Homo sapiens: one gene and its partners. The protein of the gene in region 2 interacts with the protein of the main gene of each other region in a biochemical or structural test. Each region holds a gene or a part of one and is shown on either strand. Other genes may lie near its edges.

The links.
Region 1: the proteins of USP8 (region 2) and YWHAE form a complex in vitro, tested with the Homo sapiens proteins (2 studies listed by BioGRID).
Region 3: the proteins of USP8 (region 2) and STAM2 form a complex in vitro, tested with the Homo sapiens proteins (3 studies listed by BioGRID, with this or other methods).
Region 4: the proteins of USP8 (region 2) and SEC31A form a complex in vitro, tested with the Homo sapiens proteins (one study listed by BioGRID).

Annotation. Positions count from the first base shown.
Region 1 is NC_000017.11:1,396,983-1,405,390, reverse strand, and holds the start of YWHAE (14-3-3 protein epsilon), read left to right. Parts: upstream 1-5,168; 5' UTR 5,169-5,280; coding exon 5,281-5,344; intron 5,345-8,408. UniProt on the Homo sapiens protein: Adapter protein implicated in the regulation of a large spectrum of both general and specialized signaling pathways. Binds to a large number of partners, usually by recognition of a phosphoserine or phosphothreonine motif.
Region 2 is NC_000015.10:50,510,807-50,515,591, forward strand, and holds the end of USP8 (ubiquitin carboxyl-terminal hydrolase 8), read left to right. Parts: 3' UTR 1-3,615; downstream 3,616-4,785. UniProt on the Homo sapiens protein: Hydrolase that can remove conjugated ubiquitin from proteins and therefore plays an important regulatory role at the level of protein turnover by preventing degradation. Converts both 'Lys-48' an 'Lys-63'-linked ubiquitin chains.
Region 3 is NC_000002.12:152,172,070-152,180,442, reverse strand, and holds the start of STAM2 (signal transducing adapter molecule 2), read left to right. Parts: upstream 1-4,679; 5' UTR 4,680-4,800; coding exon 4,801-4,840; exon of another isoform or gene 4,841-4,910; intron 4,911-8,373.
Region 4 is NC_000004.12:82,887,387-82,896,171, forward strand, and holds the start of SEC31A (protein transport protein Sec31A), read right to left. Parts: upstream 3,768-8,785; 5' UTR 3,766-3,767; coding exon of another isoform or gene 3,702-3,765; intron 3,680-3,701; exon of another isoform or gene 3,309-3,679; intron 1-3,308. UniProt on the Homo sapiens protein: Component of the coat protein complex II (COPII) which promotes the formation of transport vesicles from the endoplasmic reticulum (ER).

The DNA of each region.
Region 1 (8,408 bases), on a different chromosome or scaffold from region 2:
GCAATCTACGTGTAGGGTTTCTGCCGTCTCAGCAGTTACGTAGGAAGAGGCACTTTTGGAGAGACTTCGGCGGGTCTGGGGAGACACTGTACAGAAGCTTCTTTGTGAAAGAGACGGCCGATAGCTTCTTTCCCCAGCACAGACAGCTGCATAGCCACGGCAGCCCCTGTAATCAACCCGGCAGCAGAGCTGTCTTTGTAGGTAGGTTTGTGAATGTGTGGACCAAATCCTTAATTTGGCCACCCCTATTGGCCACTCATTGCTCTCAAATTACCTGTCTGTCTTCACTGCTCCTCTCAGGAGACCCCTATGCTTACCAGTTCCACTTTCTCGACTTCCCTGAGCTTCAACCAAATGCAATCTGGCTTCCAACACCATTTCGAAACTCCTTTTGAAGGTCACTAATGACCTAATCGCTATATCCAATGGCTTTCCCTCAGTGCTAATCTGACTTATGTCTCTGCAGAATTTAATACGACTGACACCTCCTTTTATTCTTTTTTTTTTTTTTGATATGGAGTCTCACTCTGTCACCCAGGCTGAGGTGCAGTGGCGCAATCTCAGCTCACCACAACTTCCGCCTCCCAGGTTCAAGTGATTCTCCGGCCTCAGCCTCCTCAGTAGCTGGGATTACAGCCGCGTGCCACCATGCCCAGCTACTTTTTGTATTTTTGGTAGACACAGGGTTTCACCATTTTGGTCAGGCTGGTCTCAAACTCCTGACCTCATTATCTGCCCGCCTTGGCCTCCCAAAGTGCTGGGATTACAGGCGTGAGCCACTGTGCCCGGCCAACAGCTTCCCTTCTATTTGGAATGCGTGTCCCCTTTTACAACTCCTTCGTGGTCATTTTTACCTGGGTGATCCTTGGGTACCTGCGGATCCCTGATCCTCTGAACCAACATGTGCTAAAAGAACTTTGTCTTTCTCTGCATTCCATCAGCAAGTGTTCCTAGCATTCCCATTTTTTGTTAATATTCTCAGGGTGGAAAGATGGAAAGTCAATTTTTATTATAAGATCTTCAATCTGGGCCAGGTGCGGTGGCTCACGCTGGTAATCCCAGCACTTTGGGAGGCTGAGGTGGGAGGATCACCTGAGGTCGGAGTTCAAGACCAGCCTGGCTAATACGGTGAAACCCTGTCTCTACTAAAAATACAAAAATTAGCTGGGCATGGTGGGGCACACCTGTAATCCCAGCTACTTGGGGGGCTGAGACAGGAGAATCGCTCGAACCTGGGAGACAGAAGTTGTGGTGAGCCGAGATTGTGACATTGCACTCCAGCCTGGGCGACAGAGCGAGACTGTCTCAAAATTAAAAAAAAAAAAAAAGCCCTCTCCCTCTCCCTCTCCCTCTCCCCACAGTCTCCCTCTCCCTCTCTTTCCACGGTCTCCCTCTGATGCCGAGCCGAAGCTGGACTGTACTGCTGCCATCTCGGCTCACTGCAACCTCCCTGCCTGATTCTCCTGCCTCAGCCTGCCGAGTGCCTGCGATTGCAGGCGCGCGCTGCCATGCCTGACTGGTTTTCGTATTTTTTTGGTGGAGACGGGGTTTCGCTGTGTTGGCCGGGCTGGTCTCCAGCTCCTAACCGCGAGTGATCTGCCAGCCTCGGCCTCCCGAGGTGCCGGGATTGCAGACGGAGTCTGGTTCACTCAGTGCTCAGTGGTGCCCAGGCTGGAGTGCAGTGGCGTGATCTCGGCTCGCTACAACCTCCACCTCCCAGCCGCCTGCCTTGGCCCCTCAAAGTGCCGAGATTGCAGCCTCTGCCCGGCTGCCACCCTGTCTGGGAAGTGAGGAGCGTCTCTGCCTGGCCGCCCATCGTCTGGGATGTGAGGAGCCCCTCTGCCTGGCTGCCCAGTCTGGAAAATGAGGAGCGTCTCTGCCCGGCCGCCATCCCATCTAGGAAGTGAGGAGCGTCTCTGCCCGGCCGCCCATCGTCTGGGAGGTGAGGAGCGTCTCTGCCCGGCCGCCCCGTCTGAGAAGTGAGGAGCCCCTCCACCCGGCAGCCGCCCCGTCAGAGAAGTGAGGAGCCCCTCCGCCCGGCAGCCACCCCATCTGGGAAGTGAGGAGCGTCTCCGCCCGGCAGCCACCCCGTCCGGGAGGGAGGTGGGGGGGTCAGCCCCCCGCCCGGCCAGCCGCCCCGTCCGGGAGGTGAGGGGCGCATCTGCCCGGCCGCCCCTACTGGGAAGTGAGGAGCCCCTCTGCCCGGCCGCCACCCCGTCTGGGAGGTGTGCCCAGCAGCTCATTGAGAACGGGCCATGATGACAATGGCGGTTTTGTGGAATAGAAAGGGGGGAAAGGTGGGGAAAAGATTGAGAGGTTGGATGCTTGCCGTGTCTGTGTAGAAAGAGGTAGACATGGGAGACTTCTCATTTTGTTCTGTACTAAGAAAACTTCTTCTGCCTTGGGATCCTGTTGATCTGTGACCTTACCCCCAACCCTGTGCTCTCTGAAACATGTGCTGTGTCCACTCAGGGTTAAATGGATTAAGGGCGGTGCAAGATGTGCTTTGTTAAACAGATGCTTGAAGGCAGCATGCTCGTTAAGAGTCATCACCACTCCCTAATCTCAAGTACCCAGGGACACAAACACTGCGGAAGGCCTCAGGGTCCTCTGCCTAGGAAAACCAGAGACCCTTGTTCACATGTTTATCTGCTGACCTTCCCTCCACTATTGTCCTATGACCCTGCCAAATCCCCCTCTGCGAGAAACACCCAAGAATGATCAATTTAAAAAAAAAAACAAAAAAAACACAAAAAAAACATTATATTATCGACTATACCTTAAATTATAATAAAATGTTATATATGTAATGGTAAAAAAAAAAAAAAGAGCTGCAATCTGATCAGCTGCTTGTGGCTTCCCTCTATAGTGCTATTCCTATTTATCCTTTCCTTTCTATTTTCATTGCTCCCACGTATTACGTTTGGTTATCCTCCTCTTTAATCATTGCTATGGAATATTTGTTAATATTTCTGAAATATAACTATGATGACATCATCCTCCACGCAAAATCATACAGCTCCCTTGGCCACAAAATAGGATGCAAGATTGGGTGCGTTGGTGCAAGCCTGTAGTTTCCCAACTACTTGGGAGGCCAAGGTGGGATTGCTTGAACTCAGTTTAAGGCCAGTCTGTGCAACGTGGCAAGATCCCTCCCTCTCCCCACTTTATTTTTTGAGACAGGGTCTCGCTCTGTTACCCAGGCTGGAGTCCACTGGTGCAATCACAGTTCACTGCAGCCTCAACCTCCTGGACTCAGGAGATCCTCCTGCTTCAGCCTCTGAAACTGCTAAGATATGGCTCAGGCCTGTCATCCCAGCACTTTGGGAGGCCGAGGTGGGCAGATCACGAGGTCAGGAGATCGAGGCCACCCTGGCTAACATGGTGAAACCCCGTCTCTATTAAAAATACAAAAAATTGGCCGGGTGTGGTGGCATGTGCCCGTAGTCTCAGCTACTTGGGAGGCTGAAGCAGGAGAATTGCTTCAACCCGGGAGGTGGAGGTTGCAGTGAGCCGAGATCACGACACTGCACTCCAGCCTGGGCAACAGAGCGAGATGCCGACTCAAATAAAAAAAAAAAAAAACGTTTTTATAGACATGGAGTCTCGCTATGTTGCCCAGGCTGGGCTCAAGTCATCCTTCCGCATGGGCCTCCCAAGCGCCAGAAGCTGAAGCAATGTTCACTGAGTTATTCCTGCCTCCACAATCTTTATTTGATCTTGGTCCAACTCTTCTGTACCATGTACTCCACACCACCCTCATCTAACAAATTCCCTGCTCCTATTCATAGTGGGCCTAGGGAGGGAAAAAGGTTAAACAGGAGAAGACAAAGATCAGTGTGAGGGGAAAGTTGAGGCGTGAAAACTGGAGCTCCCCTGTCCCTGACAACTGTAACAGGGCCCAGTTCGTTTTTTTTCTTTTTCTTTGTTTTGAGACAGAGTTGTGCTCTTGTTGCCCAGGCTGGAGTGCAATGGTGTGCTCTCGGTTCACTGCACCCTCCCACTCCCGGGTTCAAGCGATTCTCCTGCCTCAGCCTCTGGAGTAGCTGGGATTACAGGCATGCACCACCACGCCCAGCTAATTTTTGTATATATATATAATTTTTCTTTTGAAACACAGTCTCACACTGTCGCCTGGGCTGGAGTGCAATGGGAGGATCTCGGCTCACTGTAACCTCCGCCTCCCGGGTTCAAGAGATTCTCCTGCCTCAGCCTCCTGAGTAGCTGGGATGACAGGCATGCACCACCATGCCAAGCTAATTTTTTGTATTTTTAGTAGAGACGGGGTTTCACTATATTGGCCAGGCTGGTCTCGAACTCCTGACCTTGTGATCCTCCCGCCTTGGCCTCCCAAAGTGCTGGGATGACAGGCATGAGCCGCCGCGCCCGGCCAGGGCCCGGTTCGTTACCCTGAGTCTAAAAGTGTCTGAAAAAGGCCCATGACCAGGCTTGGCCGAGAAAACTAGGACGTGGGCTGGGCGCGGTGGCTCACCCCTGGAATCCCAGCGCTTTGGGAGGCCGAGGGGGGGCGGATCATCTGAGGTCGGGAGTTCGAGACCAGCCTGGCCAACATGGTGAAACCCCATCTCTATTAAAAATACAAAAGCTGGGGGTGGTGGCGGGGGCCTGAAATCCCAGCTACTCGAGAGGCTGAGGCAGCAGAATCACTTGAACCCGGGAAGGCGGACGTTGTGGTAACCCGAGATCGCACCACTGCACTCCAGCCTGGGGAACAAGAGGGAAACTCCGTCTCAAAAAGAAAAAAGAAAAAAGAAAAAAGAAAAGAAAACCAGGGCGCGGTAGTGACAGCCTCAGATTTCGGGAAAGAAGACCTGCCATGACAGAAACCGTTACAGCCTCCGTCGTTCTTTTCCGCAGGTCGGGCCTCGGGCCCCGGTCTGACCCAGGTCTCTCGCTGGCTTTTTTCAGGAGCAGTCCCGGCCGGCCCCGCCTCAGCCCTTCTCGTTCCCCGGGGGCCGCTCCCTTTCGGCAGTCGCAGTTCCCGCCTCTGGGCTCCGGCGCCCGCTGAGCCGACAGAGGAGAGGCGTCTCGTGCGCTCGTTCCAGCCGCTTCGGGCGCCGAGTTCCAGGACCCGCCCCCCGCGCCAGTTGCCAGGGAGCGGTTGCCATAGAGCTGAGCAGTTGTCCGCGTGCGCAGGCGGAAGTCCCGGATTGAGGCGCCGCCATTTTTGCTGCCCGGACGCGGAGCGAGAGGCTGAGAGAGTCGGAGACACTATCCGCTTCCATCCGTCGCGCAGACCCTGCCGGAGCCGCTGCCGCTATGGATGATCGAGAGGATCTGGTGTACCAGGCGAAGCTGGCCGAGCAGGCTGAGCGATACGACGGTGAGTTGGGGGGGCAACGGGGGGCTGGAATTCTCGGACCCTCTGCCGCCGCCCACAGAGGCCGGGAACAGGAGACAAAATGGCGGCATCGTCTGCGAGCCTGGCCCGGGGGCTTGGGTTCGGGAAGCAGGAAATGGCCTGGGAGCTCCCGGGGCGATGGGAGGCTCTATGCCCTGGAATGTGACCCCTTCGCCGTCCTTAACTGCAAACAACTCGCGGGCCGGGAGGCCGGGGCGACGGGGTGGAGGAGTTGGTTGTAAAATGGCGGCTGGGGGGAGGGCGAGTCCCGGGGCGGGGGAGGGGGAGGAGATGGCGGGTGCTGTCTCCGAACGAGCCACCCTCATGGGAGCTTCTGGGACGGCCTTGGGATGTGGAGAACAATTGGGTGGGGTGACGGGGGAAGCAGCACCCGCCACATGGGAGAGAGCGAAGACCGGGAGCTGTAGCGCGGGCGCCTTTCAGGGAAATATGGCGGGTGGGGGCGGTGGCTTTTCCCCGGAGGCCCCGTGTGGGGCGGCGGCCGTGGAGTCTCACAAAGGAGGACCTTTGAGAGCGATGGGCTTCCTCAGGCCTGAGGTGGGGGACAGTCGTGGATGATGGTGGGGGGAGAGGGGTGAGTGGGAATCACTGCAGTTCGTCTTCGGGCGGTGGCAGGCTCCCATGCTGCGATCGGGTTTCTTTCCCGTAGGCCGGCACCTCGTAGTGAGGGGTTTCGGGGCTTTTCCTCCTCGTCGTCTTCTGGGGAGGCCCAGAAAATCCTCACTCCCTCCCTTTCCTCAGACTTAAAACAGGAGATCTCGAAGTTCCTGTAACCTTTCTCTGGCTCCATCACCCGTGGGTTCTGATGGATAGAACCAGGAGGCCACGACTCTGAGAGTTCGAGCCTTTGTAGAGCCCGAGCCTCCGTCCCCCCGTTTGTAAAAACGATGACTTTACAGTTTGTGCGCACCGTGATGACAAATGGGAAGACCTGTTGAAATAAAGTTATTTCCAATAGTGTTCAGTAACTGTATTTTGGTTGACTCTGCAGGCTCGGAATGCTGGTCTGTACTTCGTGGGGGATCTTAACCTATTCCAGGCGCTCGGCTGAGGCTGGGTTTTTTGAGTTATGAAGGTTGAAGATCCTGTTGCTTTCTTTTTTTCCGTTTTAAATAAATGGGTTTATGTAGAAATATTAGTAGGTCCTCTTTGTTCGTTGTTCTTTTGCCCCTAATGGGTTCTCCAGTCCTTTTTCAGAACTTCATCGAATGTCCATTGTGTCTGTCCAGTCATTGTCAGGAAGTTTATTCTTAATCCTCTCTCCCAGTCCACCTTTTGGACCACCTTTTGAAATACCCACACATTTATAATTGTGCGATACTGTAGTATTAAACGAAAGGTCATGTCTGTGGGTCCTGTGGTTTTAATGCTTTTGCGTGGTAGGGTGGGGTGAGACATGGTTGGAATCAAGTATCTTTGATTCTTAGATTTTTTTCCTAATTAAAATACCTATATTTCAAAATGTTAGGGCCCTTGCTTTCCTCGAAATGCGGATTTAGTCATGTGAATAACCTCAGGGTTAGTCCCCCTTATCATCAGAAATAAGATTCAGGGATTTGAAAATAAGACAAGGCCTCTAGAACTCATATTTAGGAAATATAGTGAACTAAATTTCGTCTTGTAAATTCTTAAATTGCTATTTGTATTCAACAAGGTTCCTGTTGGGGGGGGGGATAAGATGGGGAAGTACAGCTCAAGGTCTGCTTTGTCTTTATTTCAGTGTTTAAAAATCAAAGAGATATGAATGTGCTTGTATTGGAAGTCTCCTCCTCCGCCCCCTCATCTCCAGATGTTCCCCTCTTAATCTGTTAGTGTTCTTGGGAGGAAACAAATTGTACTTGAATGCTTTCTATTTTGTGGGTATTGGGGCTTTTTAAGTAAACTTGCTGTGATAACTAGAAAGGATGTGAGGAAAGGTCTTTTTCTTTTTGAAAGCTCCTTTAAAAAACTGATTTGAAAGCTTGTGATTGTAGTTTCCAAATAAAGTACAGGTTAGTGATAATTATATTTTTGATGTGAGTGGTGAGGATTTCTGACCAGAGCCCTTATTGGTTATTGAACATGGGACTCTGATACAGCCACATTATTACAGTTGTTAATGTTAGGTGTCCCCTTCAGGATCTAAAGGGGTAAGGAAATAGGATCTACAAGGTGAGGAGCTATTGCTGTGACTTGGGGCATAAGGTAGGGACTCAGTGGAAAGGAGAGGAGGAGGAGGAGACAGAAACCAGGAATTTCTACCTGTGTCCTCTACCTGTGTCCATTCCTTTATTGAGTGCGGTATTTTTTTGTTTCTGGTGGCAAAGTTTTCCCGGAGTTCTGGTCACCAAACAGAACTTAGCAGGTGTCGGGGGTGGAAGAAGGTAAGACAGTGTATTGGCAGGATTTCTTTGTTGGGTACTTGTACCCAAATGCTGGGTTTCCAGCTGCCCTTTTATCTCTCTGTTACTGCAGCAGGCTTATTTTATTTTGCTTGCTGTGTTGAATTAGTGCCTAAACTTCTTTGTATCCTCATTTAATTCTATCCTGGGGCGTTGGAATCAATTTATATGGATTATTTAACAGTACGGGAGGAAGAGCTAACCTGTGTTCAGGAAAATGACAATTTTGGGTCACAGGAAATATTTAAGTTTGGGGCTGGGAGTTGAAGATTAAATCTAGCATCTCATCACTTTAACAAGCCAGTAGTCTATTCGAATCGTTTTTACCTCCTTTGAAACCATATTAAGCAAGTCCATTATTTCTTAGCATTTCTCAAACAGCTCTTACTGTCCCGTATATGAAATAGTACAAGAAAGTGGGGAAGAAAGGCCGGGCGGGGTGGCTCACGCCTGTAATCCCAGCACCTTGGGAGGTCGAGGCGGGTGGATCACCTGAGGTCGGGAGTTCAAGACCAGCCTGGCCAACATGGTGAAACCCTGTCTCTACAAAAATAAAAAAATTATCCGGGCATAGCTACTGAGGAGGTTGAGGTGGAAGAATCACTTGAACCCGGGAGGTGAAGGTTGTAGTGAACCAGGATTAT
Region 2 (4,785 bases):
CGCTCTGTCTCCCAGGCTGGAGTGCAGTGGCGCTATCTCGGCTCACTGCAAGCTCCGCCTCCTGGGTTCACGCCATTCTCCTGCCTCAGCCTCCTGAGTAGCTGGGACTACAGGCGCCCGCCACCATGCCCGGCTAATTTTTTTTGTATTTTTAGTAGAGACGGGGTTTCACCGTGTTAGCCAGGATGGTCTCGATCTCCTGACCTCGTGATCCGCCTGCCTTGGCCTCCCAAAGTGCTGGGATTACAGGCGTCAGCCACCGTGCCCGGCCGATGTACACCAATGTTCTCTGTACAATTCTTTCAGATTTTCTGAATGTTTGCAAAGTTTTATTTTAAAAACTGGAGAGAGAGCACTTGAAAAGATGCTCAACATCATTAGTCATTAGGAAAATGCAACTCAAAACCATGACATACCAGTTCATACCTACTTTGTATGGGATAGAATAAAAAATGAGAGGCAGTAACAAGTTCGGTTGAGGATGTGGGGAAACTGGAACCTTAGTTCCAGTTGCTGGTGGGAACGTAAAATGCTGCTGCCACTTTGGAAAACAATTTGGCAGTTCCTCAAAAAATTAACCAGAGTTACCATATGACCCAGAAATTTCACACTTAGGTATATACCCAACAGAAATGAAAACATGTTTACAGAAAATCCTGTACATAAATGTTCATAGCAGCATTACTGATGACAGCCAAAAGTGGAAACAAGCCAAATGTCCATCACTGGATGGATTAAGGAAATGTGGTATATCCTATACAATGGAATATTATTTGGCAATAAAAAGGAATGAAGTACAGATACATGCTATGACATGAATGAAACTTGAAAACATTATGCTGAATAAAAGAAAATAAAAACAGAAGGTCATATATTCTATGATTCTGTTTATTAAAATACCCAGAATAGGCCAGGCACTGTGGCTCACGCCTGTAATCCCAGCACCTGGGGGAGCCGAGGCAGGTGGATCACTTGACGTCTGGAGTTTGAGACCAGCCTGGGCAATATAGCAAAACCCCATCTCAACCAAAATACACAAAAATTATTGGGGCATGGTGGTGCACACCTGTGGTCCCAGCTACTCGAGGGAGGGAGGAGGGAAGATCACTTGAGCCAGGGAGGTTGAGGCTGCAGTGAGCTGAGATTGCACCATTGCACTCCAGCCTGAGCAAGAGTGAGATATTGTCTCAAAAAATAAAATAAATAAAATTTTAAAAATACGCAGAATAGGCACATCTATAGAAATATATAAAGTAGAGGCCAGGAGAAGTGGTTCATGCCTGTAATCCGAGCACTTTGGGAGGCCAAGGTGGGTGCGCCACTTGAGGTCAGGAGTTCAAGACCAGCCTGGTCAACATGGTGAAACCCCACCTCTACTAAAAATACAAAAATACACCTGTAGTCCCAGCTACTCGGGAGGCTGAGTTACGAGAATCCCTTGAACCTGGGAGGCGGAAGTTGCAGTGAGCTGAAATCATGCCACTGCACTCCAGCCTGGGCAACAGAGCAAGACTCTGTTAAAAAAAAAAAAAATAGCGAGAGATCGAGAGAGAGTGCACGTGAGAAGACTAGTAGTTGCTATGGACTGGGGGAGAAGGAACGGGTTACAGGGTTTCTTTTGGGGATAACGAAAATGTTCTAAAACTGGACTGTGGTGATAACTGCACAACTCTGTGAATGTACTAAAAACTACTGAACTGGCCAGGCACAGTGGCTCACACCTGTAATCCCAGCACTTTGGGAGGCCCTGAGATGGGCAGATCACTTGAGGTCAGGAGTTCCAGACCAGTCTGGCCAACATGGTGAAACCACATCTCTACTAAAAATATTTTTAAAAATTAGCCAGGCATGGTGGTGCACCTGTAATCCCAGCTACTTGGGAGGCTGGGGCATGAGAATCATTTGAAACCAGGGGGTGGAGGTTGCAGTGAGCCGAGATCACACCACCGCACTCCAGCCTGGGCGACAGAGCCAGACTCTGTCTCAAAAACAAACAAAACAAAAACAACAAAAAACACAACTGAACACATTTAAGGTGAATTCTGTGGTATGTGAACTATCTCTAAGAACTTCTTTTTATTTAAGTTGGGAAACAAAAAGATCATGTACAACAAACCAAAAACAAAAAAGTTATTTCTAACCCATGTAACATATAACAAGGATCTAGAACATGTAAATGACTCTTTCCAATCAATAAGAAGAAAAATAACCCAGTTTGTAAAAAATGTGCAAAAGACAAATATTTCATACAATAGGAAAAACTAAAATGAGATAATTTTGTATCCATTAGATGGCAAAAATTAAGAAGTCTGATGATCCTGGTAGGGGTATGTATTGGTATAATCACTTGTAGAAAGTTAAATATGCACATACTTTATGATCTAAGTGACCTCACTCCTAAGTATATACATGAGAGAAACTCTTATGCACATATATATGCAGGAATGTCTGCATAATGTTGTTCATGCCAGCAAAAATTTGGAAACAATGAAATATCAATAGGAAAATGGATAATTTATGATATATTCACACAATATACATCATAGGCTAGTGAAATTATAACCACATGCAACAATATGGATATATCTTTAAAATATTTAATGAAAAAGTATGCTTGGCGCGGTAGCTCACACCTGTAATCCCAGCACTTTGGGAGGATGAGGGAGGTGGATCACCTGAGGTCATGAGTTCGAGACAAGAGCGAAACTGTCTAAAAAAAAAAAAAAAAAAAAGAGTGAAGAATCAAGCCACAGAAGGTAATTTAAAAATGTACACTCAAGATTTAAAAAGAACTACAATTCCATAAGAAAAAGGCAGGCCACAGAATAGGAAAAAGAATAAAAGACTTGTTTAGGCATTTCACAAAAGAAAGTATACAAATTTAAGTAGTTATTTAAACCACAATGCCATTCTACTATATGGGCAACCAGAAGGGCCAAAACAAAACGAACAAAAGACTACCAAGTGTTAACAAGGATTTAAGGCAACTGAAACTTCCAGTCATTGCTGGTGGGGGTATGAATTGGTACAGTCGCTTTGGAAAGCTACTGAGCAGTATGTACTAAAGCCAGACATATGCGTATTTCTGAACCAGGAGTTTCACTCCTAGGTATGTACTCAAAAGAACTGTGTACACTATGTTCACCAAAAAACAAGAATGTTTATAGCAACCCTCTTTGCATTAGTCAAAAGCTAGTAATTACCCAAAAGTTCCTGAATGGTAGAATGAATTACTAAATTGTAGTATTTTCATACAATGGAATACTATACAGCAATGAGAATGAATAAATTACAATATAAACAACAATATGGATGAACATTACATAATTTTGAATGAAAGGAGCCAGACACAAAAAAAGGATATACTGTACAATTCCATTTATACGAAGCATAAAATCAGGCAAAAATCTATAAATCTGTCCTGCCAGAAGTCAGTGGTTTTCCAGACTCGAAGGCAGGTACAAGCACAGTTAGGGTGCTGGTAACATTCTGTTTAAACTCTGTTCTGCTGGTTACATGGGTATGTTCACTTGAAAATCCATCAAGTTTTATCCTCATGGTTTGTGTACTTTTCTGTATATATGTTTCACTTCAATAAAGTTTATTTTTGGTCAAGGGCAGTGTCTCATACCTGTATTCCCAGCACTTTGAGAGGCCGAGGCAGCCCGACTGCTTAAGCCCAGGAGTTCCACAGCAGCCTGAGGAACATGGAGAAACCCTTCTCTACAATTTTTTTTCTTTTTGAGATGGGAGTCTCGCTGTGTCACCAGGCTGGAGTGCAGCGGCGCGATCTCGGCTCACTGCAACCTCCGCCTCCTGGGTTCAAGTGATTCTTCCTCAGCCTCCCAAGTAGCTGGGATTACAGGCGCATGCCACCACACCCAGCTAATTTTTTTTATTTTTAGTAGAGATGGGGTTTCACCATGTTGGCCAGGATGGTCTCCATCTCCTGACTTCGTGATCTGCTTGCCTCAGCCTCCCAAAGTGCTGGGATTACAGGCGTGAGCCACCACCCCTGGCCTACAAATTTTTTTAAAAAATTAGCTGGGCATGATGGCACTTGCCTGTCGTCCCAACCACTCAGGAGGCTGAGATGCGAGAATCACTTGAGCTCAGGTGGTGGAGGTTGCAATGAGCCGAGATTGTGCACCACTACTTCAGCCTGGGAAAAAGAGAGAGACACAGTCTAAAAAAAAAAAAAAAAAAAAGTATTTTTTAAAAAACATGAAGAAATAGAAATCTTGACTAGACCTATAATAGCTAAAACAGCCTGAGTCAGTATTTTAAAATCTACCCACCAAGAAAAACGAAATTCCAAGACCAGATGGTTTTCCTGTTCAATTCTACCAGATTTTCAAGAAACAGATTTTTATTTTATACAATCTGTGCCAGAGAAAAGAGTGACAAACTCACTTTATGAGGCTTGTGTTTTGTTGTTGTTGTTGTTGTTTTTGAGACGGAGTCTTGCTCTGTCGCCCAGGCTGGAGTGCAGTGGCGCGATCTCGGCTCACTGCAACCTCTGCCTCCCGGGTTCACGCCATTCTCCTGCCTCAGCCTCCCAAGTAGCTGAGATTATGGGCATGTGCCACCACGCCCGGCTAATTTTTGTATTTTTGGTAGAGACGGGGTTTCACTATGTTGGCCAGGCTGGTCTCGAACTCCTGATCTCAGATGATCTGCCTGCCTCAGCCTCCCAGAGTGCTGGGATTACAGGTGTGAGCCACCACACCCAGACTATGAGGCTTATTCTAATAAGACTGACCCCCAAAACAGAAAAGGACAGTT
Region 3 (8,373 bases), on a different chromosome or scaffold from region 2:
CATTTTGCTGTTAGAATACACCCCCCAGATCAACAGGGAAATATTATAGCTACATTTGAGCCTTTTCCTTTTAAATTACTAAAAAAATTTAAACAAGCTATTAATACTAAAAAAGGATATAGAAATAATCAGCGAGTCAGGCTGCCATATAGGGGATTCCAGAATGGCTCAGGCCATTCCCTCACCCCTGTACAATGTCTGTCCCCTGCCACAGCTGGTAGTGCCACGGTAGACTTATGCTGCACAAAAGCTGTGAGCCTTCTGCCTGGGGAATCCCTGCAAAAGGTTCCAACAGGAGTCTGTGGATCTTTGCCAATGGGGACAATAGGATTACTTTTAGGAAGGTCTAATTTAAGTTTAAAAGGGGTACAAATACATACAGGAGTCACTGATTCAGATTACAATGGGGAAATTCAAATTGTTATATTTACTTCTGTTCCCTGGAAAGCAGAGCCAGGAGAGTGCATAGCACAGCTCCTGATCGTGCCGTATGTGGGAATGGGAAAAAGTGAAATTAAACGAACAGGAGGATTTGGAAGCACAAATAAACAAGGCAAAGCAGCTTATTGGGTAAATCAAATTACTGATAAATGTCCTACCTGTGAAATAACTATTCAGGGAAAGAAATTTAAAGGTTTGGTAGATACAGAAGCGGACATTTCAATCATTTCTCTACAGCAGTGGCCGTCTGTGTGGCCAATTCAACCCGCTCAATTTAACATAGTTGGAGTTGGTAAAGCCCCTGAAGTATATCAAAGTAGTTATATTTTGCATTGTGAAGGGCCTGATGGACAACCTGGGACTATTCAACCAATTATAACTTCTGCACCTATAAATTTATGGGGAAGAGATTTGTTACAACAATGGGGAGCACAAGTTCTAATTCCAGAACAATTATATAGCCCTCGAAGTCAACATACAATGCATGAAATGGGGTATGTCCCTGGTATGGGACTAGAAAAAAAAAATTTGCAAGGTTTGCAAGAACTGCTTCAAGCAGAAAGACAAAATTCCTGCCAAAGATTAGGATATCATTTTTGATGGCCATTGTTAAGCCTCCAGAACCTATACCTTTAAAATGGTTAACAGATAAGCCAATTTGGATAGAACAATGGCCGCTAAGTAAAGAGAAACTGGAGGCTTTAGAGAAATTAGTTACTACACAATTAGAAAATGGGCACATAGCTCTAACATTTTCCCCTTGGAATTCTCCAGTTTTTGTAATTAAGAAAAAATCAGGTAAATGGAGAATGTTAACTGACTTAAGGGCCATCAATTCAGTTATACAACCTAAGGGAGCATTACAGCCAGGATTGCCTTCTCCTGCTATAATTCCAAAAAATTGGCCTCTAATAGTCATAGATTTAAAAGACTATTTCTTTACTATCCCTTTAGCTGAGCAAGACTGTGAACAGTTTGCATTTACAATTCCTGCAGTAAACAACCTGCAGCCTGCTAAGTGTTTTCCTTGTTTCACAGATGGGTCTAGTAATGGCAAAGCTTCTTATTCTGGATCAAAAGGTAAAGTTTTCCAGACGCCCTATACTTCAGCTTAAAAAGCGGAGCTTGTAGCTGTAATTGAGGTATGGACTGCTTTTAATATGCCTATTAATGTCATTTCTGCTGCTTCATACGTGGTTCATTCCACACAATTAATTAAAAATGCTGTTACTATTTCATACAGATAAACAACTAATGACAAAAACAAAAAAGGGGGAGAAATAGGGATTATGGGACAGCCCATACACAATTGAATCTAGCATTATTAACTTTAAATGTTTTGAGCCTGCCCAAAGAAGGCCAGATGTTATCAGCAGCTGAACAGCATCTACAGAAACCAGATGCAAAGACAGAAGCAGAACAACTGATTTGGTGGAGAGATCCGGTAACAAAAAGTTGGGAAATAGGTAAAATAATAACTTGGGGTAGAGGTTATGCTGTATTTCTCCAGGCCAAAATCAACAGCCGATTTGGATACCATCAAGACACCTGAAACCTTATCATTAGCCAGATGCCAAGGAAGAGATTCTGGGAGGATCCCAAGGACCCCCCCCCCCGGTTGCAGCCATGTTGAGACTGACACTGAGAAGGACCCCAACTGTCGTGAGCTATACCCATCAAACACAGCCACCCACCTGGGGACAGACCAAGAAGCTGTCACAGATGGCAGAAGAAAACCTGAGGAAAGCGGGACAACCAATCACAACGAGTAATTTAATGGTAGCTACCATAGCGGTGATCACCATTGCCATAAGTATTCCTTCAACAAGGGCTGCCGAGACCAGCTCGGTCGGGGAGAGCCTAACCTAGCGGCGCTAGAGGAATTAAAGACACACACATAGAAATATAGAGGTGTGAAGTGGGAAATCAGGGGTCTCACAGCCTTCAGAGCTGAGAGCCCCGAAGAGAGATTTACCCACGTATTTATTAACAGCAAGCCAGTCATTAGCATTGTTTCTACAGATATTAAATTAACTAAAAGTATCCCTTAAGGGAAACGAAGGGATGCGCCGAATTAAAGGAATAGGTTGGGCTAGTTAACTGCAGCAGGAGCATGTCCTTAAGGCACAGATCACTCATGCTATTGTTTGTGGCATAAGAAGGCCTTTAAGTGGTTTTCCACCCTGGAAGGGCCAGGGGTTCCTTGCCCTCATTCCAGTAAACCCACAACCTTCCAGCGTGGGCATTATGGCCATCACGAACATGTCACAGTGCTGCAGAGATTTTGTCTATGGCCAGTTTTGGCCATTCTCCTGAGGCAGGAGAATGGTGTGAACCCAGGAGGCGGAGCTTGCAGTGAGCCCAAATCGCGCCACTGCACTCCAGTCTGGGTAACAGAGTGAGACTCCATCTCAAAAAAAATTTTTTTTTACTATTCTGCTACCCAATATCCTTAAATAATTATTGAGTGCCTTAATCAAAATAAAAAATTCCCAGCTTGCCCTTTAAAATTCTTGTCAATCTGTTTCCTCTTATACCTAGTCAGCCTTGTTTTCCATTCCAACACTAAGTCTTAGACAAAAAGTCTTTATCTGTCCAAAAAATCTCTAAGTCTTTTTTTTTTTTCTTTTTTCGAGACAGAGTCTTGCTCTGTTGCCCAGGCTGGAGTGCAGTTGCCTGATCTTGGCTCACTGTAACCTCTGCCTCCTGGGCTCAAGTGATTCTCGTGCCTCAGCCTCCCAAGAAGTTGGCATTACAGGCTTGCGCCACCATGCCTGGCTAATTTTTGTATTTTTAGTAGAGACGGTTTTTCGCCATGTTAGCCAGTCTGGTCTTGAACTCCTGGCCTCAAGCAGTCTGCCCGCCTTGGCCTCCCAAAGTGCTGGGATTACATGCGTGAGCCACCATGCCCGGCCTCCCAATTTATCTTGAACATCCCTAGGTTCAACGTTCTATGAAAAACAGCCCCTTCTGCACGATTCCTTCTCATTTGTGCCCCGAACTTTATAAAATGCAACCACCTTTCTGAATGTGTATGAGCTCTCTATAGCATCAGGTCTTTATACTAGAGTTTGTAAAATGGTTTTGATTAATCTATTATTTAAAATGTTGGAGTAATTCTCAACATTTAAACATCATTGAAAAATTGCAAACTCTAGTAGGACCCACATTTCAATAAATGGCTGCAATTTACCAGTAGTTGACATCTTTAGATACGCACTGTTCAGTTAGAAAGTTACAGCTTCATTCGAAAAGCATTGAGCGTCTATTACTTGGGACACTGTTTTAGACGCTGGGGATATAGTAGTGACCAAAACTTATCAGGGAGTTTATAATCTAATGAGGAGGAGAGACAGGCAACATAATCATTACTACAGTTTTCTAAGAGGAACAGAGAATATGTGGGTGGGAAGGGTGCTTGGGCTTTTGCATTCATTTAAATACCTGGCTGGATGCTGTTGGAATTTGAGTTTATGACTCGTACTACCATCCGAATCGTCATACACCATCATGTACGTTATGCACTGCCCCTATAAAACTCTCAACAAGTCTAAGGCAGGGAGTGTGCCTCCTTCGCCTTTGGATTCCGGGGGCCCAGCAGTGTTTTTATGGAGGGGACACGATGGAAAGCGAAAAGTTAGGCGTAGTTACTTCGACCACCGCTGTCCCGGGTGGTTATTCTGACGGGGTTTGGACTGGGCGCCTGGGAGGGTGCAACACAATAATTGTTGAAGAGCAGTCAGGTCTTTCGCAGAATCTCAAAGCCACCTCCGCGCCGGCAGCTCCGTTTCTAGGGAAACAGGACTGTAACGCGTACGCGTCGTGGGTCCTCGTTCTCTAGCTACGAGTCCTGCCGCTCTGAAACAAACTAAATTCGTGACAAGAACTTGGCCCTCAGAGCCCGTCGTCCAACGCGAAAAACCACGGGTAACCGCGCCCCCTGCCGCGCCGCCGCTGGCACTGCAGCTTCCGGGGTCGTCCAGTTCCAGGCGGGACTACTTCCGGCTCCGAAGGTCCCCGGCTTCGTGGCTAGCCGGGGTCCTAGCGCTGGAAAGGTGGCCGTAGCGGCCGCCTGACCCCTACAAAAGTCTGGGACAGGGGCAGCGACAAAGGCCTTGGGAGGACGCCCATGGTCGGAGGGATCTCGCCCCGGGAGAAAAGTTGGGACAGGAGCGCGGGATCGAAGGGTGGACTCCGAGCCGGCCTGTCAGGCAAGAGCCGGGCAGGTGCGGTGGCGGAAGTGCAGGGACGGAGGCCGAAGCGGAGCGGTCTAGGGAGCCGCGGCCGCGGGTCACCCGGCGGGTAGCAGTTGCTGAGTGTCAGCTAGACAGCAGCGACTAGGGCTCGGGCGCCGGCGAGATGCCTTTGTTCACCGCCAACCCCTTCGAGCAAGACGTGGGTGAGTGCTGTGCCCGGTCCTGGACTGCTGTGTGCCTGGCCCTGGACTGCTGTTTGTCCGGCTAGAAAGTGGGCGGTAGCGACTCCGGGGACTAGGAAGCAAAGCGAAGGGAGGGGAGGGGCGGTGCCGCCCGCTCCTTCGACGTTGGGATTTTTCTGGGGCAACCTCGGCGCGTCGCTAGCGGTCTGGGGAGTGCTTCCTGCCGCCTGAGTTTGGGGACCCTCAAAGGGCCGTTCTCCTTGCCAAGCGTAGGATTTGGGAAGAGCCTAGGGCTCGCTGGAGACTGGACTGATTAAGTAGTTGTGGAGTTGGTGATTAAAAACTTCCTGCTCGTTCGACAGCTGGTTACCTCCGTCTTTGCCCCATCGTTTTCTGAAGATGATGCAGCAGTGGAGACCCTGCTGTCTAGAGAAGCCCAACACTAGACACTTGACACCTAGACAACCGCATTGAATAGGAAGAACTTACTTCCCCATTATTTATATTACTCATGCATTCAATCCCTGATAGGGTAGCTTTAAGATTTATTACAATTGTAAAGGTGTTGCTCTTCATCCCCGGATTGCAAAGATTGCGCGGGTGCTAGGAGATGTTCGGTTTTAGAGTATGAAAAGGAAATCTCCAGTCTCAAAACACTCCAGAACAACAAGTATTTTACATGTTGCAGTCATAAAGCGCTGGTCTCTCAGTGACTATAGAATGAGAAAAACATGGATAAGATATATACGAAATTATTTAGGAAATTTGAGTAACACTAAAACAAACTGAGAAATATATGTATGTATTCTCGAAAGTCTGGGTCTCACTATGTTGCCCAGGTGCGACTAGAATTCCTCCCACCTCAGCCTCCACCTCCGTTTCCCCTTCCCGAGTAGCTGGGACTACAGGTTTGTTTTTTGTTTGTTTTTGTAGCAGTAGTTAACAGAACCCTAGGTAAATTTTTAGAACTTGGAAATGGGGTTGGGGCGGGGAGACTCAGAAGAATACTGCACATCTCAGCAGTAATTCCCCTGTTTCATAGTTAACATTTGGTTATTAGGAGACTGTAGAAAGTGCCCTATTCTGATACGTTGTGTAATCCCCTAAGCCATTTTAAAAAACATGTTTGAGTCAAATAATATATGTAAATAGTTCAAATATGTATGTTCCTTACTTCATTAAACTTTTTTTTTGGTGGATGAATACAGGTGACTGGCGTAAATCTGGGAAACATCACTCTTAAGGCTCACTGTTTCCTTTTGGAACGCCTCATTGCAGTATTCTTTTGTTTGAATCATACAACCTTTGTGCAACCTGTACTTTTAAAAAATTGCTATTATGAACACTTTGATTCTGTTCTAATGAAATAAAACAGAAGGCGCAAAATAGAATTAGACAAATGATTTTAAAACTTAAAAACCGTGAATTCTTTTCTTCAATATAAATTTTTCTTGAAAGTTCATTGTTTTCTGATGGAAAAATTCTCTGGTACAAGTAGGCAGAGTTGCTCTGTCTGTTCTGTTCTAAACCTTTCCCTGCCTGGCTCCCGAGGCCCCAGCATTGGTTTAGTGGATCACAGTTTAGTCCTACAGTTGTAAAGGAGGCACTGCTGTTGAGATTAAAAAAACAAACAAACAAAAAAACTGTGTCTAGATTATTTTATGGCCAGTGCCATAAGCCAGAGCTTCAAGTAGTTACATATTAGCTTAAGCATGACTGAATTCAGAACCCCAAAGGCATTTTAAGGGTGAAAGAATGAATTTGAGGCCCTCCTGTAACTTCTGGACAAGAGAATGGAATTAGAAAAAGTAGAATGAAATACTAAAGAGCTCAAATTGGACTTGCACGTATATCATAGAAGAAAAATTATATATTACGTTTTTAATATCTTAAAACTTTTCATTTCAAATCGTTAATACAAAGCAAGGGTCAGGCGCAGCGGCTCACGCCTGTAATCCCAGCACTTTGGGAGGCCGAGGCGGGTAAATCACTGGAGGTCGGGAGTTTGAGACCAGCCTGACCAACATGGTGAAACCCCGTTTCTACCAAAATACAAAAAATTAGCCAGGCATGGTGGCGCGTGCCTGTAGTCCCTGCTACTGGGGAGGCTGAGGCAGGAGAATCACTTGAACCCGGGAGGCGGAGGTTGCAGTGAGCCAATATCTCGCCACTGCCCTCCAGCCTGGCGACAGAGCAAGACTCCGTCTCGAAAAAAAATATATATATATATGTATACATATATATATATATGTATATATATGTGTGTATATACGCCCACAGACACACACGCATACACAAAGCAAGTCATTATTTGACTTGAGATGTCTACAGGAAATGTTACTTTACATTGTCATTGTCTTTTTCACTTGTTCTCTTTGATTCAGTCAGATTTTTGTTACCCTTTTTTTTTTTTGGTCATTCCTTTGTTCACTCTTCATTCAGCAGGCATACATTGAATAATTACTGTGTGTCAAGCATTGTGTTAATCTATGGACACAAAATGAGTAAATAGACTGTGAGTTCCTGCCTTCAAGGAACTCTCAATCTAATGGAGGAAACAGAGAGACATAAGACCTGTAATTTAGTACGATAAGTATAGTGCTACAAATATACAAGAAGCTTTAATCCTCTTTTATTTAAAATAGTCATAGTCCCTGAAGAAAAGACAAGGACCTTCAGATAGGAGCTTTCTCTGTAAAGGTGTTGACACTATCCTCTCCTTCCCACCTTTTCTTTTTTCTTTTTCTTTTTTTTTTTTTTTGAGACGAATCTGTCTCTCAGGCTGGAATGAAGTGGCCTGATCTTGGCTTACTGCAACCCCGCCTCCCGGGTTCAAGTGATTTTCCTGCCTCAGCCTCCCGAGTAGCTAGGACTACAGGTGCGCACCACCACACCTGGCTAATTTTTTGTATTTTTAATAGAGATGGAGGTTTCACCATGTTGGCCAGGCTGGTCTTGAACTCCTGCCCTCAAGTGATCTGCCCGCCTCGGCCTCCCAAAGTGTTGAGATTACAGGCGTGAGCCACTGTGCCCAGCCTCCTCCCCCCCTTCTCTGATAGCACTTTCCCAACAGGAAGTAACCACCTTTTGCTAATGTATGATATGGTCATTTTATGATTAAAGGCCTTTAAAGATTAATCTCTTTTGGTAGGTGAAGAGTCTTGCAGGAGGGTGAGCAGTCTTTCTGACAGTCATATGAGGAAGGAATCCTTTTCTCAGGGGCTGAGAAAAGGATGGGTCAAGATGTCTTAGGAAGGCACTCATGAATTGATGATGATATGTGACTTGTCAAATGGAAGCAGGCCAAAGGCTAGGAAGTAGGGAACTCTGGCAAATTCCTGTCTTTTCTTGGCATCAGAACCTACAAGCCCTGAAGGATATACTAGATTTGGTAGTGTTAGAACTCTTTAAACATTTTATCTAGATTCATTTTTTTGTTTTGTTTAATAAGATTTCTTTGATGTGTTCTGAGGGGAAAAAAGAAAATATCCTTAGGTCCCACCTCTTCTCCCCAGCTGGGCCTCAAGTGTTAGAGGGGTACAGGGATCTTGAGG
Region 4 (8,785 bases), on a different chromosome or scaffold from region 2:
TGAGAAAAGAAAAGAAAAGAAAAGAAAAAAGAAAGGAAAAGAAAATTGTGTGGGCTTGTTCATACATGCCATCTCCAAGACAGTATCTATAGCACGGCAATTAAGAGCATGGGGTCTAGGGCAGACACCCTCAGTTTAAATTCCAGCTTCACTATGTCCACCTCTGACTTTAATCATGTCGCTTTATCCATGTATGTCCTGGCTCCTCTCTCATTAAAATAAGGAGAACAGTATCTATACTACAGGGTTGTTGTGAGAAATAAGTGGTATTACTCAGAGTGGTTAGAACAGTGCCTGGCATATATAAACAAATGCTCATAAATGACAGTTATTACAAACATCACTACTTAAAACGTCTACCACCACGAAACTTCAAAAATACATCTATTAGGCCGGGCGCGGTGGCTCACGCCTGTAATCCCAGCACTTTGGGAGGTCGAGGCGGGCGGATCACGAGGTCAGGAGATCGAGACCACGGTGAAACCCCGTCTCTACTAAAAATACAAAAAATTAGCCGGGCGCAGTGGCGGGCGCCTGTAGTCCCAGCTACTCGGGAGGCTGAGGCAGGAGAATGGCGTGAACCCGGGAGGCAGAGCTTGCAGTAAGCTGAGATCATGCGACTGCACTCCAGCCTGGGTGACAGAGCAAGACTCTGTCTCAAAACAAACAAACAAACAAACAAACAACAACAAAAAAAACATCTATTAGCCAGGCGCAGTGGCTCATGCCTGTAATCCCAGCACTTTGGGAGGCCGAGGTGGGCAGATCACTTGAGGCCGGAAGTTCGGGACCAGCCTGGCCAACATGGCGAAACCCCGTCTCCACTAAAAAATACAAAAACTAGCCGGGCGTGGTGGTGTGTACCTGTAATCCCAGCTACTCAGGAGGCCGAGGCAGAAGAATCGCTTGAACCCGGGAGGCAGAGGTTGCAGTAAGCCTGGGAGACAGAGCGAGACTCCGTCTCAAAAAAAAAAAAAAAAAAAAAAACACACAAAAAACATATATATATATACACACAGACACGGCCAGGCGCAGTGGCTCACACCTGTAATCCCAGCACTTTGGAAGGCCGAGGCGGGCGGATCACGAGGTCAAGACATCCAGATCATCCTGGCCAACCTGGTGAAACCCTGTCTCTACTAAAAATACAAAAATTAGCTGCGCGTGATGGCGCGGCCAGTAGTCCCCGCTACTCGGGAGACTGAGGGAGGAGAATCGCTTGAACCCAGGTGACGGAGTTTGCAGTGAGCCGAGATCGCGCCAATGTACTCCAGCCTGGGTGACAGAGCGAGGCTCTGCCTCAGAAAAAAATAAAAAAAAAAAAAAATTTCTTGAGGAAAATTTATATTCTAGACTAGAACTCTTTATTTTTCATGCAACTTTCTCTCAATAATTGCATTCAATTAGGTGGAAACTTTTTTATTTCTGCTCATTTTCAAAGTGTAAATTTTGTGAAGCAATACTAAAACCCACCAGCACTGTTCTTTGAAAAATACCAACCTTGCAATGCTATATACAGAGCTGATCCATAACTCAGAAAGCAAGTAAAAAGTTAAAGAGGTAATAGAATTGGAACTTGGATTCCCAAACCAGGTATACAATCCCTAGTTGGCACTGCTTTCAGTAAAAATCCATTTTCTGCAGGCAAAATATCTCAATATGGATAGAAACAATTGTTTAGAGGATTTATTTAGTATTTTCAATGTTCTAGGTTCATTTCACTCAACCCAAACCAAATCAAAGGAGAAAGCAACTGTGCACTGGTTACTGAACTAATTGGTGTCATACTAATCTTCAGTATAATAAAACTTTTTGAGCTGAAATTAACCTAATGACATTCCTAACAACAATGTAATCAATGTAAATCAATCTAGTAATATCCCCTTACAGGAGTTTTTAACTTGTAAACTTCATAATATTATGTATATAGAAAATCCTACATGTCACTTGAAAGCAGGAGCTTGAGTCCAGCCTGGGGAACGCAGTGAGACCCCCATCTCTATAAAAAATAAGATTAGTTGGGCGTGCGCCACGTGCATATTCCTAGCTACTTCTGAGGCTGAGGCGGGAGGATCTCTTGAGCCCAAAAGTTCAAGGTTATAGTGAGCTATGACTGCACCACTGCACTCCAATCTGGGCAACAAAGAGGGACCCTGTCTCAAAAAAAAAAAAAAAGTAAAAGAAAAAAAAAGAAAATCCTACATGTGTGTATATGTGCATTCTTCCAATGCTTTCATTAGATTCCCGTAAGACAGTGAAATCCCCCCAAAATTTTGAATCATTGCTCTTCACAGTTTACAAATTTATTTCTATTCCCATGTTATTGGTTTCAATAAAGAATTTGCTTATATAAAATTAAGCAATATCATTATAAATCCACCTCAAATTTCAAATTTCACAAATAACCGCGGACGTATTTAAGATAAAATCACTACAAAACTACAAAAACACTACGAGTTATCCAAAAGTTCTTAAGAGTCTACAAACCTCTCCCTGAGCTGTTAATTAAGGGATAGTGAGAAACAAGGAGCACAGAAGAACCACTAAAAAAGGAGAGTAGGCTGGGCGTGGTGGCTTATGCCTGTAACCCCAGCACTTCGGGAGGCCAACTCGGGCGGATCACTTGAGGTCAGGAGTGCCAGACCAGCCTGACCAACAGCGTGAAACCCCGTCTCTACTAAAAATACAAAAATTAGACAGGTGTGGTGGTGGGCGCCTGTAATCCCAGCTACTCAGGAGGCTGAGACGGAGGTTGCAGTGAGCTGAGATCGCGCCACTGCACTCCAGCCTGGGTGACAGAGCGAGACTCCGTCTCAAAAAAAAAAAAAAAAAAAAAAAAGGAGAGTAAGCTTTTGCCAACTCTTGAATAAACGGAGGTACAGAAAACGCAGGACGCTGTAACAAGAACACACCCTTATCGATTAAATACAGTTATAACTGCCCACAAAGACAACCAAATTTCAGTTTTCTATAGTTAGAAAAAATAAGTTAGGAGAAAGGATTTGTCACAGACTATCAGATCACTGCAACTTCAAATAGCCCTACGTAAAATTAATTCCTTAAGCGCAAGAAAAAATTTATAATGCCCACAAGTCCAGGCAATATTTTGGTTTATTTTACAACAGCCCCGTAATTTAACAACTTATTAGCAAAAACATGTAACACTTAATGAGACTGCCCTCAAAGTACAGGCTGCGCCTGGCTACCACCGTCCTTAAAATAATCCTAGTTAAATGACAGTAGACGTCAGTTCAAACCTATGAACCTTTAAATCTGGCAATAGTTCAAGTACAAAAAAAAATCCTAACCAAAGCCAAAGTAATCCTGAGATTTTTTTTCCTCTCCTCACCCTCGGGGACCGCACCTCTTTGTGCACAAGGGTCTGAAAGTCTCCTAATCTCAAACTCCAGTTACCAGCCCGGCTACTACTCCCCGGCAAGACACTGTCGCCAGCCTCGGGTGGCTTTTGCTCAGCAGTGGAGACGTCGGCGAATGCGGACGGGCGCGATCACTGGAGTCCAGATGCCAGGCGTTGTTCCGCCGGGCCCGAAACCAAGACTAGGGGCGCGCCGTCACCAGAGACCGGGCCTCAGGCTGGTGCGGGGCAGCGGAGACCCAGGCTGCGGTCCCAGTTTTGGCCTGGGCTCTACCTCAAAGCTTAAGGACCGGCGAAGAGGACAAAAAGCAACGGGCGGACGCACCTGGCGAGGACCTTCGGCAGCCGGATCCTGCGTTAGTGCAGCGCTCGTCGGACTCTCCCAGCATTCGCCGCCGCCCCTCCTCCCCGGCCAGGGCCACCTCCACGTTCCGTTCCAACGTGGCAGCCGCAGCCGCAGCCACGCCCTGCGCCCAACACTTCCGGGAGCGACATCTTTCCCCGCCCACCCGACGCACAGCCCGCCACGGCACTTCCGGGACCGGCGGTAGCCTGGGAGGCGGGGTACGGCTCCGCTGGTTGGTGGCGCTCTGCGGTCATCGCGCCCCGGCGATCGTAGAAACCCTTTTCTGAGGGGCGGCGCGCAGAATGTGGATGGGGTAGCCAGGACTAGTGGGTAAAGGACTAGTGCAGAGGGTGTCCCCGTCTGGCCGAATAACCGCCGTGGCCCGCAGGAACGCCACGTAGCACTAGTCCTGTGAGGCGTCGGCAGCCCCTGGCGACACTGCCCGCGCCAAACCAGGTGGAAAATCGGGCTGCAAGGGCTTTATTGTAATTTGTGACTGAGTTCTTAAAATTACCCACTTGATTGCACATTCTGGCGTTTTGAGAACTTATACAAAGTGAAACAATCTGGGCATTCCCAAAGGCTATTGTGGACAAAGAGGTATAGATGGGGTGTTATATTAATTCCAATTAGTACCGTTTCATACTTGTTACTATCCCATGGTATTGAGACCCGGTAGCACTCACCTTCTGCCACTGTTTCTCCACAACCTCAAATCTAATTAGATGCGTTGCCTAAGTGTACTTTTAGTTTAGGGAGGAATTATTTTACAGCAAGGTGAAGCCAAAGGAAAATCACTTGCTAAATTACCAGAAATTGGATTCAACCCAGATCTCCTAACTTCTAGACAAGTTCTTTTCTCATTACATCTAGCATTCAAAGCCAACTCTTGCACTTTGGGTAGCTAAAGCAGAAGGATCCTGCCCCTTGAACAGCAGCAGTGTTAACATTCCCACAGTCAGCTACATCTTCTGTAACATTCCATCTGAAGCTTGCAGCTTCATAAGACAGCTTAACATCAATTCACGCCAACTTCTGAAATAATGAACCCAACTTTTACTGGTAGTAATATATTCTCTTTCAGTCTTCTAATTACCATTTTCTTTCAACGCAGTAACTAAGGTTATCACTTTGGCCTGAATGCTAGTCAAACTGATTGGGATTTGTTTTTGATTAGTCTTCAATTCAAACAAGTAAATGCTCCATTTCAACCGCAAGCAGCTTTCTGTTCCTAGTGCAATTAAAACTGAAAGACGTTGAAGCAACTTTACCTTTTTACATTTATCAGACTTTTTCAATAGGCTTGTATTACAGCTTCATGCAGGTCTGGGTCTCAACCTATCTTTGCTTTGCTGTCACCACTTTCAAATCTAATCACATCCAATTTCACTTCCAGCATTATCACTTTTCTTTGCTGCTCTGTCCTTTGTTGACCAATTACCTCTTTTAATTATCCATTTTTATAAATGGTCACAAGTTTAATCTCTGGGGTCAAGGAGGCAACAGTACTATGCACTTTGTGCTCTGCTATCTGTGCATGAACTAAACAGATGATCAGTAACAAATCAACAAACTTTGAAAGCAAAGTAATGTAACTGGCGACTGATCATGATGCACATCTTTTTTTTGGGGGGGGGGGCACAATGATTTGTGGACTAAAGAGCTAGCAGCAAAATTTATGCAAGTTTTCTCAGTACTGTGGTAATGGAATTATTAACCACATTGTTGGACTGGTTTTATTTAACTGTGGTCACTGGTATTTATGCATATTGGAACTGTGCAAAGACTGCCTGTATCTAAAAAAAGAAAAACTCTTTAGTTCACAAAACTAAATCCAATTTAGTTAACTACTATCCAAGCCTAATCCTGAATCAAATAAAAACTGAATTGCTCACTAGAAGAATGTTTGGAGAGAATTTAATGACAAATTTTTCAAATTAGGATTTGCATAGCACAAAGATATTCTAGGTTTTTTTAGAGACAGGTTTTTGCTGTGTTGCCCAGGCTGGAGTGTGGTGGCAATGATCACAGCGCGCTGCAGCTTCAACATCCAGGGCGCAAGTGATCCTCCCACCTCAGCCTCCCAAGTAGCTAGGACTACAGGCACACAACACCATGCCTGGTTAATTATTTTATTTTCTGTAGACACAGGGACTCATTTTGTTGCCCATACTGGTCTGGAACTCCTGGCCTCCAGGGATCCTTCTGCTTTAGCCACCCAAAGTGCAAGGATTATAGGCATGAGCCTCCATGCCCATTTGACATTCTTTTGGGAATTCAGATCCCTTCCCCTCATTTCAACAGTCTTGATGTCTGCAAAGAGTGAAGTTGTAGACAAAACAATCATCACAAGATACATGAATGTTTATGTAACTTTTTCCATAGCAGCCAGTACTATGCTTACACCTCAGTAAAACAGTAGCATCCATTTCATTGTTTTAGTTTGTTTCTGAATGCATTTATTTCACAAATTTGTTTAAGGGCTATAAACAAAATTTGTATCAACTTGTTTGTATATATTTACAAAACAGAAAATTAAGTCAGCATTAAGTCAACATGAGTAGTCACAGAATTTTTCCCCTTTATAAATGGTACATATTCAAGGAGACTTCAAAAAGTTTGTGGAAAAATGGTTAAAAGATAAAAAATATAAACTATATTTTTGAACATTAGCTCTATAGCATTCAAGACACTTTTGTAAGTGATGATACCAGCTATTTAGTCCATCCCTAAAGAACTGAGAGTTCTGGGAATTTATCTACATCAATGCAGTTTCTTTATACATTAACTTGAGAAAAATGTACTGCCCTGAAAAATTTTTTTAAGATTAGGAAACAAAAAGTCAGAAGGTGCCAAACCAGGACTGTAGGGTGGATGCCTAGTGATTTCCCATCAAAACTCTTGCAAAATGGCCTTGTTTGATGAGAGGGATGAGCAGGAACATTGTTGTGGTGAAGAACTCTCTGGTCTTTCTCGGGGATTTTTCTGCTGAAGCTTTGGCTAAGTTTCTCAAAACACTCCCATGATAAGCACGTTACCATTCTTTGGCCCTACAGAAAGTCAACAAGCAAAATGCCTTGAGCATTCAAAAGCTGTTGCCATGACCTTTGCTCTCAACCAGTCCTCTTGTGCTTTAACTGAACTACTTATCTTGGTAACCACTGCTTTGTGTTTTGTCTTCAGGATTGCGCTGGTAAAGCCATGTTTCATCTCCTGTTACAATTTTTCAATGAAAGGCTTCAAGATCCTGATCCCACTTATTTAAAATTTCCATTGAAAGCTCTATTCTTGTCTGTAGCTGATCTGGGTGCAATGGTTTTGGTACCTATCAGGTATAAAGTTTGCTGAACTTTTCCAGTCAAAATTGTGTAAGGTGAACCAACTGAGATGTCTATGGTGTTGGCTGTTGTTTCTGCTGTTAATTGTTGGTTTTCTTCAATTACGCCATGAACTAACTTTTTTCTCACAAACTGATGTGGATGATCTGCCACTGTGGGCTTCTTCTTCAACATTACCTTATGCCTTCTTAAAACGAGTTATCCATTTGTAAACTGATTTCTTTGGAGCACTGTCCCTATCAACTTTTCATAAAGCATCAATTAGTTCACCATTCTTCCACCCAAGTGTCAACATATATTTGATGTTTGTTCTTGCTTCAATTTTAGCAGAATTCGTGTTGTTCTGATAGAGCCTCTTTTCAAACTGATGTCTTATTCTTCTTAGTGCTTCAAACTAGATCCTGTTCAGACATGTTATAACAAGTTAGTAGGAGTTTATTTTGGTCCAAAAATTTTGAAATCCATGCATAGTTTTTTCATGATATGCATTTTCCATGCACTTTTTCAAGACCCCTCATATTTTCTTAAATTTGAGAAACAACTACAATAACAAGCCTAATTCATGACAGAACTAGTATTAGATTTAAGATTCCCAGTTTCCTATCACCTTCTTTTCTACTGTTCCTGAACAGATCCTTAAGTTATAGGCTAGTCATCCTTGGCATATCTAACAGTCATTTGTAAACCCTGGATCTTTAAGAATATCAGGTGCTGAAAAGATTATATCATTATTTCTAAGAAAAGATAACCAACAGCCAGGTGTGGTGGCTTATGACTATAATCCCAGCACTTTGGGAGGCTGAGGTTGGTGGCTGGAAGTTTGAGACCAGTCTGGCCAACATGGCAAAACATGGTCTCTACTTAATAAAAAAAATTAGCTGGGTGTGGTGGCATGCGCCTCTAATCCCAGCCACTTGGGAAGCTGGGCCACAATAACTATTTGAACCCAGGAGGCAGAGATTGCAGTGAGCAGAGATTGCGCCGCTGCACTCCAGCCTGGGCAACAGAGTGAGACTGTCAAAGTTAAAAGCTCCACCCCCTCCAATGCCTTTCCTGAATTGAATCTATTAATTAAAAAAATACTATTTTGAAATAATACTTATCTTTAAAAGCTGGAAGAGTAAGGAAAAGAAATTTTTAATTCAGAGTACAGTATCCACATTAGGCTGAAATAAATGTCAATTTTCTGCTCATACCTGACCTTTTCTGTGTTCTTTTATCAAAATAAATGTGTAAGTCCCATACCTTATTATATAAATCTTCAACTTCTTGATCAAATAAATATGACAAATGATGTTCTCTAAGAAAAACACCCTTCAATTTTATTCCTAAAACGAAAAACATTCAAAGGAACTCATTGTGCAGAAACACAATATATACAAGTCTCATCATTTTCTTTTTCTATTATGTCCTCATCCACATACATTAATCACAACAAATCATGATGTGAACAGCAGTGGAAAAAATTTAATCATTGGACATTTATTTCTTGAACTTCAGCTCTAGTTGTAAGATTCTCATTGCTTAGCTCTTTAAAACAAATGCATATATTTATCTAATGTAGAACAGTTAAGACCTCCAATTTTACTATAATTGGGAAAAAAACTCAGAACAAAGATTATGTCAAGTGTATCACTGTATTGACTTTGTTAACCTGCTATACATCTGACACAAGGGTAGGTGTTCAACAAGTGAAATACCAATCCTAAAAAGCCAGAAGTCTGT